2 separate regions of the Homo sapiens genome follow, and region 2 is linked to region 1. Evidence: fine-mapped expression QTL. Tissue or cell type: thyroid. Region 1 holds a variant in brackets; the other region holds the start of a gene. All regions are shown on one strand. Distances are from middle to middle.

Region 1 (8,105 bases):
CGGAGAGGGGTGGGGGTGAGGTGGCAGTGAGCCATGTTGGCGCTGCTGCAGTCCAAACTGGGCGATAGAGCGGGACTGTGTCTCAGGAAAACAGGAAAAAAAAAAAAGAAGAAAAAGAAAGTACATAAAATTGCTAAATCAAGGAACAGCTTGACAGTATATTATTGAGAGAAATAGAGGCAAAGGCGAGCAGACACCAATGTTCACTTAGTGGAACTGCAGTTGTCCCCAGACAGGAGGCTGCTACTTTTCCAAAAGAAATCTATTATTGACAAAAAAAAAAAAAAAGGGGGTTTGTTACAATATACAAATAGCTAAACTTTATATAGCCACGACCCTCTTGCAGCACTGCTCTAAGCCTTTTCCTGCTCTGAAATAGCTACTATTGTTACCTCCATTGTAGAGAATACAGATGCCAGAGGTTGTTGTGGAAGGACCATGGAAACTGACTAGGAAATTGACTTGTAAGTTTAGGACTTAAAGGTTCTTCCTGTTTTGCTCCTTACATTGCCACATTTTAGTTAACATACCTCCTAAAATACTGGTCCTTTCTATATTTGGAGGGACTCGTCTTGCAGTTTGAAGTTTTTTCTTGCACTAAGCATTTGGTCAGAAGATCATGTGCGTTTTATGTCAGTTTAAGTTTAGACATTGTTCAGTAAGGAATGTAAATATGAGCAAACAGTTACCTGATTAAATAGAAAACCTAGAAGAAAAATCACCTATGAGAAAGTCAAGAAAATGTGAACTCTGGATTTGTGGCTATTTTCAGAATATTAATTTTTTTGGTATTTAATGGCATTGTGAATATATTTATTTTTAAAAATTCCTTGTCTTCTGCAGATACATATACGGTAATTAAAAAATGATATGATGTATAGATTTTACTTCAAAATAATTCAGAGGAAGAAGGAATGCATATAAATGAAGTGGGAATATAAATGAAACAAAACTGGCTGTGGCCAGGTGTGGTGGCTCACGCCTGTAATCCCAGCACTTTGGGAGACTGAGGCAGGTGGATCACCTGAGGTCAGGAGTTCAAGACCAGCCTGGCCAACGTGGTGAAACATCATCTCTACTAAAAATACAACAGTTAGCCGGATGTGGTGCCGGGTGCCTGTAATCCCAGCTACTTGGGAGGCTGAGGCAGGAGAATCGCTTGAACCTGAGAGGCAGAATTTGCAGTGAGCCAAGATCATGACACTGCACTCCAGCCTGGGCGACCACAGCAAAATCCCACCTTTAAAAACAAACAACAAAAAACCAACAAAAACAAAAAACTGTCCATGCCATGAATGAAAAATTGTTGATGATGTGTATATGTAGGGCAGTTACATTATTTTTCTCAACTTTTTTTACATCTGAAACTTTTTAATGAACACATGCACACGTCCCTTGATAACTGGGGCTGCTTCCCCATTACTCTCTCAATAGCCCTTCTGATTTTCACTTCATCTTCATTCTTAGAGACTCTGGATTTTTTATTTTTTTTGGCAAGTTCAAGTATGTCTTGATCTATGCAAGGACTAGCCAGCATGTCTACCTACTCAGCCATATTATCAGAAACAGAAAAAGTGTCCAGATTCTTGTCTTTTCCTGTTAAGATTTTTTAAATTCCAAGAACAGTCACCTTCTACCAGACACTCTGATGTTGGAAGACAAAGCATATTTCGTAAGTGGCATGATTTCTGTGCTCAAGTTTAGAACAAAGCCACAGATTTCAACATCTCAAAAATAACTTACTGGACTCACCAAATTTAGAAAGATGGAGATTATTTTAAAAAAAGAAAACCTTAATTTACTATGTGACCTCTAAGTATCTCAGCTGAAAATTGTAAAGATAGGTAAATCAAAAGATGCAGATAATCATGCACTTAATGAAGCGCTAAATCAAAGTATTTTTGGCATATGTGAGTTTCATTTTATCACATTTTTTACTGGTACTATAGCTATTTGCAAGTACATATAGAACTACAGTGTTACATATAAACTACCAAAAAGCAACTTTTTAAAAAAATTTTATTATTCTTATACTTTAAGTTTTAGGGTAGATGTGCACAAAGTACAGGTTAGTTCCATATGTATACATGTGCCATGTTGGTGTGCTGCACCCATTCACTTGTCATTTAGCATTAGGTATACCTCCTAATGCTATCCCTCCCCCTCCCCCCACCCCACAACAGTCCCCGGTGTGTGATGTTCCCCTTCCTGTGTCTATGTGTTCTCATTCTTCAATTCCCACCTATGAGTGAGAACATGCGGTGTTTGTTTTTTTGTCCTTGCGATAGTTTGCTGAGAATGATGGTTTCCAGTTTCATCCATGTCCCTACAAAGGACGTGAACTCATCATTTTTTTATGGCTGCATAGCATTCGTTGGTGTATATATGCCACCTTTTCTTAATCCAGTCTATCATTGTTAGACATTTGGGTTGGTTCCAAGTCTTTGCTATTGTGAATAATGCCGCAATAAACATATGTGTGCATGTGTCTTTATAGCAGCATGATTTATAGTCCTTTGGGTATATACCCAGTAATGGGATGGCTGGGTCAAATGGTATTTCTAGTTCTAGATCCCTGAGGATCTAGACACACTGACTTCCACAGTGGTTGAACTAGTTTACAGTCCCACCAACAGTGTAAAAGTGTTCCTATTTCTCCACATCCTCTCCAGCACCTGTTGTTTCCTGACTTTTTAATGATCGCCATTCTAACTGGTGTGAGATGGTATCTCATTGTGGTTTTGATTTGCATTTCTCTGATGGCCAGTGATGATGAGCATTTCTTCATGTGCTTTTTGGCTGCATAAATGTCTTCTTTTGAGAAGTGTCTGTTCATATCCTTTGCCCACTTTTTGATGGGGTTGCTTGTATTTTTCTTGTAAATTTGTTGGAGTTCATTGTAGATTCTGGATATTAGTCCTTTGTGAGATGAGTAGGTTGCGAAAATTTTCTCCCATTTTGTCAAAAAACAGCTTTTTAAGAAATGAGACTAATCTAGCAACTTTATTGAGAGGACGTGAAGTGTTTGGTTAGGAATGGTGCAATTGGTGGTGGTTGTGGACATGTGAGATGTAAGATGCCTCAACTTCCAATGTTGTTCAGAAGCAATCCAGCTTTCTGAATTATTCTTATGAATTCTGGATTTGAAACAGTAACTTCCCAAATGGCAGGGGCTTTCAGCAGAGAGGAACCTGGAGGGACCCTGTCCCTGACACCTTCTGGGTTGTTAGCTCCAGATCAAAAGAACTCCTGATTTGGAAAAAGCTTCTTGAAAAGAAGAGGGGAGGTGACCTTGGTGAAGCCTCTGGGGACATGAGCTATTTTTAGGGCTTTTGGCAGGAAAAGAGCTTTTGAAAACGGAGATAAGGCATGGTATTAAAAAGGCTTACATTGGAGAAAGAAATCATAAAACTCCATACAGTTAGGGCAATAGTTTTGTTTTTTACTAGGACAGCATCAGTTTATTGGAGTATTTATATAACATAAGCAAGGTCTCTTGATATTTTAACAATTAACAACTGGATTTTATTTTCTACTATAGGTGCAGTTTATCATTCTGAATCCAAAGCCAAGGAATATAAACATGTATGCAAACGAGCTTGTCAGAGAGTATCAACGCAATGTGTATCATCTATGCTTTTCAGTTTTGAACATAAAGCAGTGGCTCTGAGCGCGACTCGGAGGGCGACGCCGCGGCCGCA[G/A]CCATGGGTGCTGGGCCTGCAGGGGCGCGGGGGGGAGGGCGACGCTAGGACCTGCGGGGCCGGGCGGGAGAGAGGGCTGCCGGGACCGGCCCTAGACACTGAGCCGCGGTGGGATCCCCGCCGGCTCTGCGAGGCCCTGCGAGCGCCAGGGAGGCGCCTCGAGGGAGCCGGGCAGCCGCCGGCCACTTCAGGGGGGCCCGCCACTTCAGGGCGGTCGAAAGAGCCTTGGGGGCACATCTCGGGGTGCGGTGACCCGCCCGGCGCATTTCGGGGGTCGGGGCGCATTTGCCAGGGGACATCTGGAGCCCGGCCCTGCTTCTGTCGGGCTCCAGGGTACCCCTGGATGGCTGCGCTGTGCCCTCGCCGGCGGCCCGGGCGCCACAGCGGCTGAGTTCGCCGGGATCGCCGGGCCGCCGCCGCCCTTGCCACCGGCTGCATGCTCGGCGCCCGGGTCGCGGCCCACCTGGACGCACTGGGCCCCCTGGTCCCCTACGTGCCGCCGCCGCTGCTGCCCTCTATGTTCTACGTGGGCCTGTTCTTCGTCAATGTGCTGATCCTGTACTACGCCTTCCTCATGGAGTACATCGTCCTCAACGTGGGCCTCGTCTTCCTGTTCGAGGACATGGACCAGGCGCTCGTGGACCTCGGCGTGCTCTCCGACCCCGGCTCGGGCCTTTACGATGCTGACTCGGAGCTCGACGTCTTTGATGGGTACTTGGAGTAGGGTCTCGACTGCCGTTCCCCTCTTCCCTCCACGATCCGCAACCCACGCCCTGGACCAGCCGCCCAGATCATGGCGCCGCAGCAGCTGGTTGGGGGCACCATCTGGACGGGGATGGTTCCCCAGGAGGAGACCCTCCCCTGCCTCCGAGGCCTGCCTGCTACCCTCAAAAGCTTCGTGCCAACAGAGAGGTTCCTGTTTGGACCCAGGAGAGTGGAAGAGAGATTGGGACTGAGTGCTGAGATTGGGAAGGCACCTGCTCCCACAGAAGGGGGAACGCAAGGGGCGTCCCAAGACCTCATCTGCCTGCAGCGTCACACCGATGGCCTGGCCTCGGCTTCTCATTATTTGCAACTGCCATGGATGTTTACAGGAACCCAGCCAGAGTTTGCCTCCCTGCACTTCATCCCAGAGCGCACCTGCTTCCTCCACTTCACCTTCGGAGAGGACACTTCAAACTGCGGACACACGCAAAAGCAACTCCCAGCTCTGTTTGATGTGAGTTGAGCCTTCAGGCCAGCTGGGTTTAGCCCGAGGCTGGTCTTAGATGCAGCGACTGTTTCAGGGAGTGACTCAGAATAAAAAGAAGCTGAGGAAGCTGTTGGGGGGCTGAGGATGAGATTCTCGCTTCTTCATTTCAGGTTACTCGTTCCTCAGCAAGTTGGCAAAACAGATATCATGCTGGTGAGTGCCACGTTACTCCCCTGGCTGCAAATGCTTTTCTGAAAGTATGAGTGTCGTGCCTACTTAATTCTGATAAACCTGTTTAAGCAATACTTAGGAGGCTGACTTCTTTGGATTAAAAAAATGTATGCAACTCCAAAAAAAAAAAAAAAAAAAAGAAATTCAACATTTAAAAGTTTCATTTCTAGGGCAGTCTTCCGGTTTGGACTACAAAATTATTTTGCTTGTTTTTGTAGGGGATCGTTTTGTGTTGTTTTGTGTCTTTCTCCACATGATGCTTAGCTCTTTCCCCACGTCCCAGATTAAAGTCTGTATTTTTGTAATTGTGGGCACACAATCATATCTCTTTTAATCTTTGCAACGATGTTGAACTTCTGTAGACAGAAGGATAGAGAAAACAGCTTGAAGGCAGTCAGTGTGTTTTTCCATGAAGGGAAAAAAATAAATAAAAAAATTAAAATGGGTGCTTTTTTAAGAGAGATTGTCCTATACTTTTTCATTCTGTTTTTCATCACGTAGTTTGTATCATAGCAAGTTCATTGTCATTCCAGAGTTCAGCTTTGCCCTTGTACTCAGTTGTGCTTTTTTCCCATTGGTTTTTGAGGTTTTGCTAAACTGTTGAATATTTAATGTGGGGACAGGAATGGACTCAGAAGAAATGTTTTTTATTTTGATTCTTACTAGTCTTGTAGGCAAACCTTCCATTACTTTTTATGCAAATAGGATCTAGTTGAATATTGTATATCGAGTAAATATGCGTCTCTCTCTGCTCTTTTCGTTGATATTTACATAACATTAAAAAGATTATACTTTATCAGAGATTCAAGCTTTTTCTTATGAATGAAGCCCTATAAATAAGAATATTTTGTTACAGGGATTTTGTTCTTTTGAAATTTATAACAATAAAGCTAAAAGTTCTCTAAGCTGTTTTATATTTTTTCTTATTTTTCAAAGTGTGAAATTTTTCTATCATCTGAAAATAAATTTTATGTAACTATAGTCTTAGAAATTTAATACATTTGAATTGTATATTTAGCCTCTTTAATATTTCCAATGAATACACTTCTTAAAAGTTTAATTAGGAATACAGTTCTTAGTTTTTGAGCTTTCTCTTTGTTGACTAAATTGAAATGTTAATAAATCATTTATAAATGACTTTTCCTTCTCTCTCTTTTCCTCTCCTAATTTATGCTCAAGGCCAGGTGATTTTATAGACCTTTATTCTGTGTAGTTTATATTACAAAATAATATGTTACATCTTGATTTAGAATTTACATTATAGTATCCAAAATGTTTTTGTCAAATGTGTGCTTTTATCCTCAGATTCCGGCGCCCCTGTGACTCAGAGTCACTTCTTTTTAGGTATGGAGAGTATTAACGGGGAGGAGAAATGATTCGTTTGAGATTTAGTTATCTATATAAAATACGAATTGTCAGGATATTTGAACCAAACTGGGTCATACAATTTCTGTGGCTATTTTGAATAGCCTTACAATGAATTAAGCTTACTAAATTCCTTGTACTTTTCATTTAATAGCTAGATGTTATTGTTTTAATTTGAATAATATTAAGTGAGCCATATTACCAATTAACCTGAATATAAACACTTGCTTGTTTTTAATCTGAGTAGTTTATGTCTTAAAGTATGGAATGGAACTAGTGGTCAATTTTTATTAATCTAAGTGTCTCCCATACTTCTTTAAGCTTTTGGAAAGTTTGGGAAGTTGTGATTTTGCAATGAATAATCTCTCCCCTTGGTTTCATAGGCAATTGAAAAGCTGCAGGCGGGTGCTCTTGCAACTGACGCAGTCACTGCAGCACTGGTGGAACTTGAGGTATTTCTTTTCTCTGTTTTATTGAAAATACTTGTGAGTTTATCTTTATTGTTCTTAAATGACATGAAACTGTTGAGTTAGTCAACCATAAATTATATGACCAGTGTTGCCCACCAATATTAGCACAGTTATGAAGAAGCCTATGATATTGTTGTTTTCATTGGTGACTTTTCTGAGTAATATGAAAGTTGGTTAAATTCCTTCCTTTTCTTGATTTTTTTTTTTTTGTGAGATTCATGAATACAAAAGTTAGTGACTGGATACTGAAGTTTCTCATTTTCAGTAGGAAAATCCTTGAAGTTAACCCCCAAAAAGTGATGTATGTTCTGTTGTTTAAAAATAAATTCCAACTGTCTAGAAGTGCCTAAAGTAGAAGGGGAAGATTCTTCACGAACCTAACAGTTAGATATATACCCTGAAATTGTGTGCTGTGAAGTGTGCCTTGTCCCAGTGTTATGGTTAGGTTTGTCCCCAGTTTACTGTGGACATCGAATAATTGAGTGGGGAGGCTCTCACGTTTGCCATAATTTTTTATACTCTAGAGTGAGGTCCTCTCAGTTCTCTTGATTTGGACCCTTGATGAATTTGTGCAGGGGATATTGAGGTCTTCAGAAGATTGACTTGCTGCTCGAACTTGGAGAAGATAGATTTGTATCTATCAGTTGAGAGGATTATCGTGAAAAATATTTTTCTGGTTGAGAATACTCCTTAGGGAATCAAGTAAGACATGATGACGAAACAATGATGAGTTTGAGGGAGGAGATGATAGTTAAAGGCGACATTTCCAGGTTGACTGGGTTGTGGCCCTTGTATTCAGGCGCTCATACCAGGGCACGCACCCTTTCATGCCTTTCCTTGTGAAAATTGCCCAGGTGTTTACCAAAAGTCCTAGCCGTGTTTTCTGTATATTCTCATGCTTAATTGTGGACCTGAGCTTTTGATCATGCTTTGTAGATTTTAATTTCTCTTGGTAATGTCAGATTGGTCCTAATGTAGTCAAGGAAGGTGAAAGAATATGGTGAGCACCTAGTTCTATTGAATCTTACATGGGGATGTGTGATGCCCTCCTAATATGACTGATACATTTCATGCCAGCTCTACCAGTCATTAGCCATGTGTCCATGGGTGTGGCACAGTCTGTCCTTGACTCAGTTTCCCTATTTA
Region 2 (8,105 bases), 60 kb after region 1:
TTACAAACATGTTTTATGTATATTACCATAATACGTACGTACACACACACACACACACACACACACACACACACACACACGTACATGTGTTCCCTCTCTCTACACAAATGGTAACATACTAAAGATACTCTTCTGTACCTTCATGGTACAAGTACCCTCAACTCCGCCTAGGATTTGACCAAGGCCACAGCCAAGTATGGGTGGGGTGGGCACTTGGCCTCCGAGCTCTGTGTCCAGTGCTCGCTCCCCACAGCGCCCCGCAACTCACCCACAGCAGCTGACTCAGCCCCAACCTGCCTCTAACAACCACGCACAAAAGCAGCAAGAAATGGCCCATGCTGTCTTCTGGGCAGGACACTGCATCCTGCAGAAGGGACCTTTAGGCTCATTCCTCCATCTGCGAAGCTGGGCTCCCAGGGGACCGGGTAGGTGGTTGGACTCACCTTGTCCGCCCTCTCGTGCTCTGCGGACATAGCAGAGAGAGCCCGCTGTAACTCTCCTGCAAAGTGCCAGGAATGATGCAGGCGGGCTGCCAGATCCTTGGAATCTTCTGGAATGAGAGAGGTTGAGCTGCAGCCCAAAGGCCTGTGAAAGTGCCAGGTTGAAGGATGACGGGGTGCCCAGATTCCCACCTTCAAATTTCCTGGCAGCATCCTGGCTGTCATGGAGCGCTGTCTCCAGTTCAGTTTTCTGACACATAAGGATTCGTATGGTATGATCCTGGGCCTTTGGGAGACAAGAAAAGCAAGTGCTGAAAGAGAAGCAAAGAAACCTTCTCCAGAGGACAGGAGGGAACTTCACACCCTCCACTCACCTCTAGCTGCCTCCTTAGGGCTTGCTGATGTTGGTGGCTTGCCTTATTTTCCTATAGAAAAGAAGAGGAAGACAGAGCTCTTACTAGAGGGAGGCAGAGATGGCACAGCAAGAGACATGCCCCCAGAATGGCCCCACTGTCCCAGGACAGGCCCACCCATGGGACCAGGTTATCAGGGACCCTGTGGGGATGGGGTGGAAGCTGGGAGGTGAGCCTTCCTCCCCAAGCTGGGAGTAGGCGAGACGAGACTGGGGCCTCTACATCTGAGTGCCCCCCAAACCCAGCGGTCATGTCGTGAGCAAAGAAAGAAACCATGTTACCTCTTTCAGCTGAGCTCGGTTCTGTTGTTTCTGTGGGGAGAGTCAAAGGAAGGTGACTGAGGGTGGTCCCTCGACTCTATTCCCCAGGCCAGGAAGCGGTAGGCAGGGGTCAGGAATGGATTTTAAGGGCAAAGTTCTCAGACCCAATGGGAACACAAACTGGTCAACTTTCCTTAACGCCCAAAGAAAAAGGATTTGGGTCTTTGTTGGCTTTTGCCCACAGCCACAGAACTGAAAGTCTGAAACTAGATTCTCTGGAAAAGACAGTAACATAAACCTTCCGACATAAGAGTGTGAGAAAAGCCCACCCTTCTGCCAGCTTGTGATGGAGAAAGATGTGTTCATTCAACAAGCATTGAGCAAGCACATAGGGGCCGGGGACGGTTCTTCACTGCTGGGATATAGGACGGAAAAGGCAGACAGGAGCCCTTGGCCCCAAGGTTTCCATTCTAGTGAATCTTTAAATCTCAGACTCTCAGAGCAAACAGAACCTCTGATACTCTAACTCTACCTCCTCAGGAAACGGAAGCCCAAAGAGGAGGGGAGCTTACAGCAGGCCCTGGACTAGGGATTAACACAAAAACAACAGCAACAAATCTGATTTAAGCTTCACACATGTAAGTAAAACATTACCATCCCCATTTTACAGATGTGAAAAGAGAGGCCCAAAGAGCTCGAGCAATTTTCCCTAAACCGTGTCCCTCGCAGTTGGAGAGAGAAGTAGGACTCAAACCCAGAATTCTTAGCCAGTACCCAGCAGTTCTTCCTTCCACAATCTTAACAGTTACCCTCGACCTCCCCCTTGTGCCCCTTGTCCTCAGGAGACCGGCCAGCCAAGACTCACATCCTCAGGCGAGTGGCAGCCCCCCGAAGTGGTTGTCTCAGGGTTAGCGCCATGATTTATTTTCTTCTTTTTGGTGTCGGTTGCTCCGGTACCAACACCAGCACTGTTCCACTGATGATAGTCTGTAAACTGTGGAAAAGAGGAGCAGTGATACTCATGAGAACTACAAGCTCCTACAGTCACTTTACAGTTTATACAAAATACTCTCATAGACGATCTGACTTAATGCCACCAACGACTGTACGAGGTGTTGTCGCAATCACTTAGTGACTGAGAGGGATTGATACCATGGCTAAAAGAAAGGCAATAATGGAACTGAAACTCAGTCTTCTGACTCTGAGCTCTGGGGTGTTGCCACAAATCAGCAGCTGCCAGAGACCAAAACCAGAGGCAGAGGTAGAAAAGTAAAAAGTAGGCAGGAAGGTGTACACTGTGTGGTTTACAGTCGTACATCCTCTTAGAGTCATGTATCCTCAGGGCAGAAGGCAGCCTTTCTGTTAAATGTGGGAATTAAACAGAAAGAGGACAACCCAAGCTGCATTTCAGAGAGAAGTCTTGTATACTCTTTGAAATCTATGTGACTATCATCCCTAAGAACATTAATGTTTTGTGTCTCCCACGAGAATCAAGGAAAACTGATGCTTCAGAAAGATGCCCCATATGTATCCTGTGGCACTCAAAGTACCCCAGGTTGAGATGAGATGAGGAAGATTCAAGTTGTCAAGTCCAGTTTCCCAAGATCTCTTGCACAGAAGATGAGCAAATCTCACTTCAAAGATCACTGACTGATGGGCACTCTGGTCCCAGAACCATGGAGAATTCAAATATGAAGTGGAGAACTTAGAAAAAACTGTTAAAGTCTCTCTGGAGAGTAGAAGCCTGGGAGAAAACCAAACCAAACCCATTATCCCATCAGTGCTGTGCCCAAGTTGCCTCTTTGAGATTGGCATGGGGTCACAGGGTTGGGACCCAGGTACTTGGAGACGTGAGCCCAAAGAGCCCAGGGAAGTCAGGCTTGGGGCAGCGGTAGGTGAGGGCCGAGTATGGAGTGGGGAGCCCCAGGAGTCACCTGCCCAAAGTCACCCTGGGGTGACTGGTGAGGGCAGGTGCTGGGGCATCCGGTTCCTTGGGAACGTGAGCCCGAAGGGCCCAGGGAGATCCATTTTTGGACAATAGGAGGTGAGGGCAGAGTACAAAGCAGGGAGCCCCACGAGTCACCGGCTGAAAGTCACCCTGGGGTGACCGGTGAGGGCAGGGGCAGGACTGCTGAGGGGTTGGGGCTGACACAAGATTTTGGTTGGGGGAGCCCAGAGGCACTGGGGGGGGCCCGGCCCTGCGTGCCTCTGGAGTGACACGGATTCTGGCAGCTGTTCTGCCATCAGAGGGGACCTGGGGCTGGGTTGGGGTTGGGGTGCTGCAATCCGATGCGTTTTACCTTTTTCTTGGTCCCAGCCAATTTTCTTTGTTGGGTTTTTTCGGACATCATGGGGTGGGGAGGGTGGTGGGGTTGGGGTCACATTGGCGTGATCCAGGCGAGGACAGTGATATGCCTCCAGTCACGTACCACACAGCTATGTGACTGAGCCACAGGAGGCGTCACCGGGGCTGCACTAGAATGCGGAAAAGGGGCGTGGCCTTAATGCTCCAAGCCCATTGGTCAATGAGAAAGATGAAAGGGAAAGGAGGCGGGGCCAGGCAGCTGCGGGTCATGAAGGTCCTGTGATGTCACAAGGAAAGCCTCCCATGGAACTGCTGTCCCCGCCCACTCTGGGAGAGGGGCGGGGCTGGCTTTCACTTACTTTTTTTTTTTTTTACATATATAACTTTTTATTATAATTTAAGGTATAGTCGATAATATAATGTTTTTTTTTGTTTTGTTTTGTTTTGTTTTTTTTAATTGATCATTGGGTGTTTCTCGCAGAGGGGGATTTGGCAGGGTCATAGGACAATAGTGGAGGGAAGGTCAGCAGATAAACAAGTGAACAAAGGTCTCTGGTTTTCCTAGGCAGAGGACCCTACGGCCTTCTGCAGTGTTTGTGTCCCGGGGTACTTGAGATTAGAGAGTGGTGATGACTTTTAACGAGCATGCTGCCTTCAAACATCTGTTTAACAAAGCACATCTTGCACCGCCCTTAATCCATTTAACCCTGAGTGGACACAGCACATGTTTCAGAGAGCACAGGGTTGGGGGTAAGGTCACAGATCAACAGGATCCCAAGGCAGAATAATTTTTCTTAGTACAGAACAAAATGAGAAGTCTCCCATGTCTACCTCCCTCTACACAGACACGGCAACCATCCAACCTCTCAATCTTTTCCCCACCTTTCCCCCCTTTCTATTCTACAAAACCGCCATTGTCATCATGGCCCATTCTCAATGAGCTGCTGGGCACACCTCCCAGACGGGGTGGCGGCCAGGCAGAGGGGCTCCTCACTTCCCAGTAGGGGCAGCCGGGCAGAGGCGCCCCTCACCTCCCGGACGGGGCGACTGGCTGGGCGGGGGGCTGACCCCCCCACCTCCCTCCCGGACGGGGTGGCTGGCCGGGCAGAGGGGCTCCTCACTTCCCAGTAGGGGCGGCCGGGCAGAGGCGCCCCTCACCTCCCGGACGGGGCGGCTGGCCAGGCGGGGGGCTGACCCCCCCACCTCCCTCCCGGACGGGGCGGCTGGCCGGGCGGGGGTTGACCCCCACCTCCCTCCCGGACGGGGTGGCTGCCGGGCGGAGACGCTCCTCACTTCCCAGACGGGGTGGCTGCCGGGCGGAGGGGCTCCTCACTTCTCTGACGGGGCGGCTGCCGGGTGGAGGGGCTCCTCACTTCTCAGATGGGGCGGTTGCCAGGCGGAGGGTCTCCTCACTTCTCAGACGGGGCGGCCGGGCAGAGACGCTCCTCACCTTCCAGGCGGGGTCGCGGCCGGGTAGAGGCGCTCCTCACATCCCAGACGGGGTGGCGGGGCAGAGGCGCTCCCCACATCTCAGACGATGGGCGGCCGGGCAGAGGCGCTCCTCACTTCCTAGATGGGATGGCGGCCGGGAAGAGGCGCTCCTCATTTTCCAGACTGGGCAGCCAGGCAGAGGGGCTCCTCACATCCCAGACGATGGGCAGCCAGGCAGAGACGCTCCTCACTTCCCAGACGATGGGCGGCCAGGCAGAGACGCTCCTCACTTCCCAGACGGGGTGGCAGCCGGGCAGAGGCTGCAATCTCGGCACTTTGGGGGGCCAAGGCAGGCGGCTGGGAGGTGGAGGTTGTAGCGAGCCGAGATCACGCCACTGCACTCCAGCCTGGGCACCATTGAGCGCTGAGTGAACCAGACTCCGTCTGCAATCCCGGCACCTCGGGAGGCCGAGGCTGGCAGATCACTCGCGGTTAGGAGCTGGAGACCAGCCCGGCCAACACAGCGAAACCCCGTCTCCACCAAAAAAATACGAAAACCAGTCAGGCGTGGCGGCGCGCGCCTGCAATCGCAGGCACTCGGCAGGCTGAGGCAGGAGAATCAGGCAGGGAGGTTGCAGTGAGCCGAGATGGCAGCAGTACAGTCCAGCTTCGGCACAGCATCAGAGGGAGACCGTGGAAAGAGAGGGAGAGGGAGACCGTGGGGAGAGGGAGAGGGAGAGGGAGACCGTGGGGAGAGGGAGAGGGAGACCGTGGGGAGAGGGAGAGGGAGAGGGAGAGGGAGAGGGACTCACTTTCTAAACTTTAAAACTTTATCACCTTAGTTGAGGTACAAATCCTGTTGTAATGGAAAATTTACAGCGTGCTTAATGATTAGTAAAGCAGATTATATTATCCAACATTCCAATAAGATAAAATAATCACAGTGATTTCTCTTTTTTGGAAAAAGTTTCTCTTATTCTCCTACATTATTGTTAAGTTTTTTTTTTTTTTAAACTAGAGATATGTCTAATATATTTTAAAACACAAAGCTTTTGAGGTGGGTGTGGTGGCTCATGCCTGTCATCCCAGCACATTGGTAGGCTGAGATGGGCATATCACCTGAGATCAGGAGTCAAGACCAAAATTTTAGTATTTTAGTGTGTATTTTAGTATTTATTTTAGTATTTAATACATCATTTAGGGCTACATGTAGCCACAGAAAGAATAAATCTGATTCAGTGACTTAAAGAAATATAGATTTCATTTTTGTCACTTAAAACGTGCAGAGGAAGGCAGTCCAGGGTTCTTTTCAGTTTCCTGATACTTCCTTAGCCTGGTTTCTATTCTTGTGGTCACAATGTGGCTGCTGTTTTTCCAGGCCTTGGATTGCCTTCCAAGGAGGGAAAGATGAAAGGTCAAAAGGCTGAGTTTGTCTCTTTTTAGCTGAAAAACACAGATTTCTCAAAAGTTGTAAAATTATACTGCAATTCAATTTTCATCCTTTTTTTTTTTTTTTTTTTTGAAACGCAGTCTTGCTCTGTTGCCAGGCTGGAGTGCAGTGGCACAATCTCGGCTCACTGTCATAATGTCCGCCTCCATGGTTCAAGTGATTCTCCTACCTCAGCCTCCCTAATAGCTAGGAATACAGGCGCATGACACCACGCCCGACTCATTTCTATTTGTATTTTTAGTAGAGACGAGATTTCACCATGTTGGCCAGGCTGGTTTTGAACTCCAGACCTTGTGATCCGCCCACCTCTGCCTCCCAAAGTGCTGGAATTAGAGGCATGAGCCACTGCGCCTGGCCTGCAATTTTCATCTTTTGGCTGCAAATAAGTTATGTCACTATTCTCAGCTGGGGGAGTGTTTAACTCACATGTTGCTTCCTCTCTGTTACACAGGTTTTAAGATTTATGAATAGGTACTGAATTGTATCAATTGCTTTTTTCTTTCTTGATTGAGCAGTGTTTTTTCTTATCTTTTTATGTTGATAAGGTAACTTAACAGTGATTGGCTTTTGAATGTTGAACATTGCATTTTGGAATTAAATCAACTTTGTTGTGATAAATGATTAATACCATATTATATATGGTTGAGATGGGTTTGCTCCTAGTTCATTTGGTAGTTTTGTACTTACGTTCACAAGAGAAAGTGGAGTCTAAGTTTTTCTGTGTGTTTTTTTTTTTTTTTTTTTTTTTTTTGCCACGGAGTCTCGCCCTGTTGTCCAGGCTGGAATGCAGTGGCATGATCTCGGCTCATTGCAAGCTCCGCCTTCCGGGTTCACGCCATTCTCCTGCTTCAGCCTCCCGAGTAGTTGGGACTATAGGCGCCCACCACCACCCCTGGCTAATTTATTGTATTTTTTTAGTAGAGACGGGGTTTCACCGTGTTAGCCAGGATGGTCTCGATCTCCTGACCTCGTGATCCACCCGCCTCAGCCTCCCAAAGTGCTGGGATTACAGGCGTGAGCCACTGCACCCAGACTTGTGAGGTTTTAATATGAAGTATTAAAGCTATGCTGGTTAGACAATTTGAGAAATGTTTCTTCTCCTATTTCTGACAGAGTTTATGTAAGATGTGTGCTATTTCTTCCTTAAGCATTTGGAAAGAATTCACTTATTAAGCCATGTGAGACTGTAGTTTTCTTTATAAGGTGTTTAATTACAGGTTCAATTACATATATATGAATATTCATTTCGGTAACCTGTGTTTGCTGAATCAATTTGTTCATTTTATCTAAAATTTCAAAGTTGTTCTATTATTCATTTATCTTTTTAATACTTATAAGGTGTGCGGTTAGAATTTGTGCCTTTTGTCTGTTTTGTTAATCAATCTTGCTGGGGGCCATCAATTTTATCAGTGTTTCAAAAAAGCAAACTTTGATTTTATTCATCCCTTTACCATACTAAAAATGTTTTGCTTAATTTCCAAACTTACACTTCCACTGTGATTAAATATTTGTATAACTAAAACTCTTTGGAATTTGTGTCTTCTCAATGATTAAAAATATGATTAATTTTTATAAATATTGCTTCTGCACTTGAAAAGGATATGTATTCTGCATGTTGAGCGTAGTGTACCACGTATCTCAATTAGACGGAGCGTGTTAAATGCATCCTTTAAAGATTCTATTTCCTTACTGATGTTTGTCTATTTTTCAGTGGCTGAGACACAGATATGAAACTTTCCCACAATCATCGTCAACTTATTTCTTTTTTTCGTTTGTTAAGCTTTGTTCTGTGTGTTTTAAGGTTAA

Which allele goes with the higher level. Alleles are on the strand shown, and positions count from the first base shown. SD is a standard deviation of normalised expression in the study named.
For the expression in thyroid of the gene that starts at base 3,559 in region 2, allele G in region 1 goes with a higher level than allele A (small effect, 0.32 SD a copy in GTEx).

The links. PIP is the estimated chance that this variant, and not a neighbour inherited with it, causes the effect.
Region 2: GOLGA6L7 starts here. The variant in region 1 is fine-mapped to the expression of GOLGA6L7 in thyroid (GTEx, PIP 0.99).

Annotation. Positions count from the first base shown.
Region 1 is chr15:28,785,062-28,793,166 of GRCh38, forward strand. It overlaps the pseudogene LOC100289656 and the pseudogene PDCD6IPP2. Among named protein-coding and RNA genes, the nearest start is that of GOLGA6L7, 60 kb to the right of the region's middle. The variant G/A (reference allele first, on the strand shown) is at 3,702.
Region 2 is chr15:28,845,086-28,853,190 of GRCh38, forward strand. GOLGA6L7 (golgin A6 family like 7) reads right to left here and starts at 3,559. Exons shown (of 9, transcript NM_001365371.2): 1 at 3,414-3,559; 2 at 1,979-2,107; 3 at 1,135-1,164; 4 at 815-865; 5 at 633-726; 6 at 444-550. The coding sequence starts at 3,464. It also overlaps the pseudogene PDCD6IPP2. RefSeq lists a silencer at 3,693-3,827.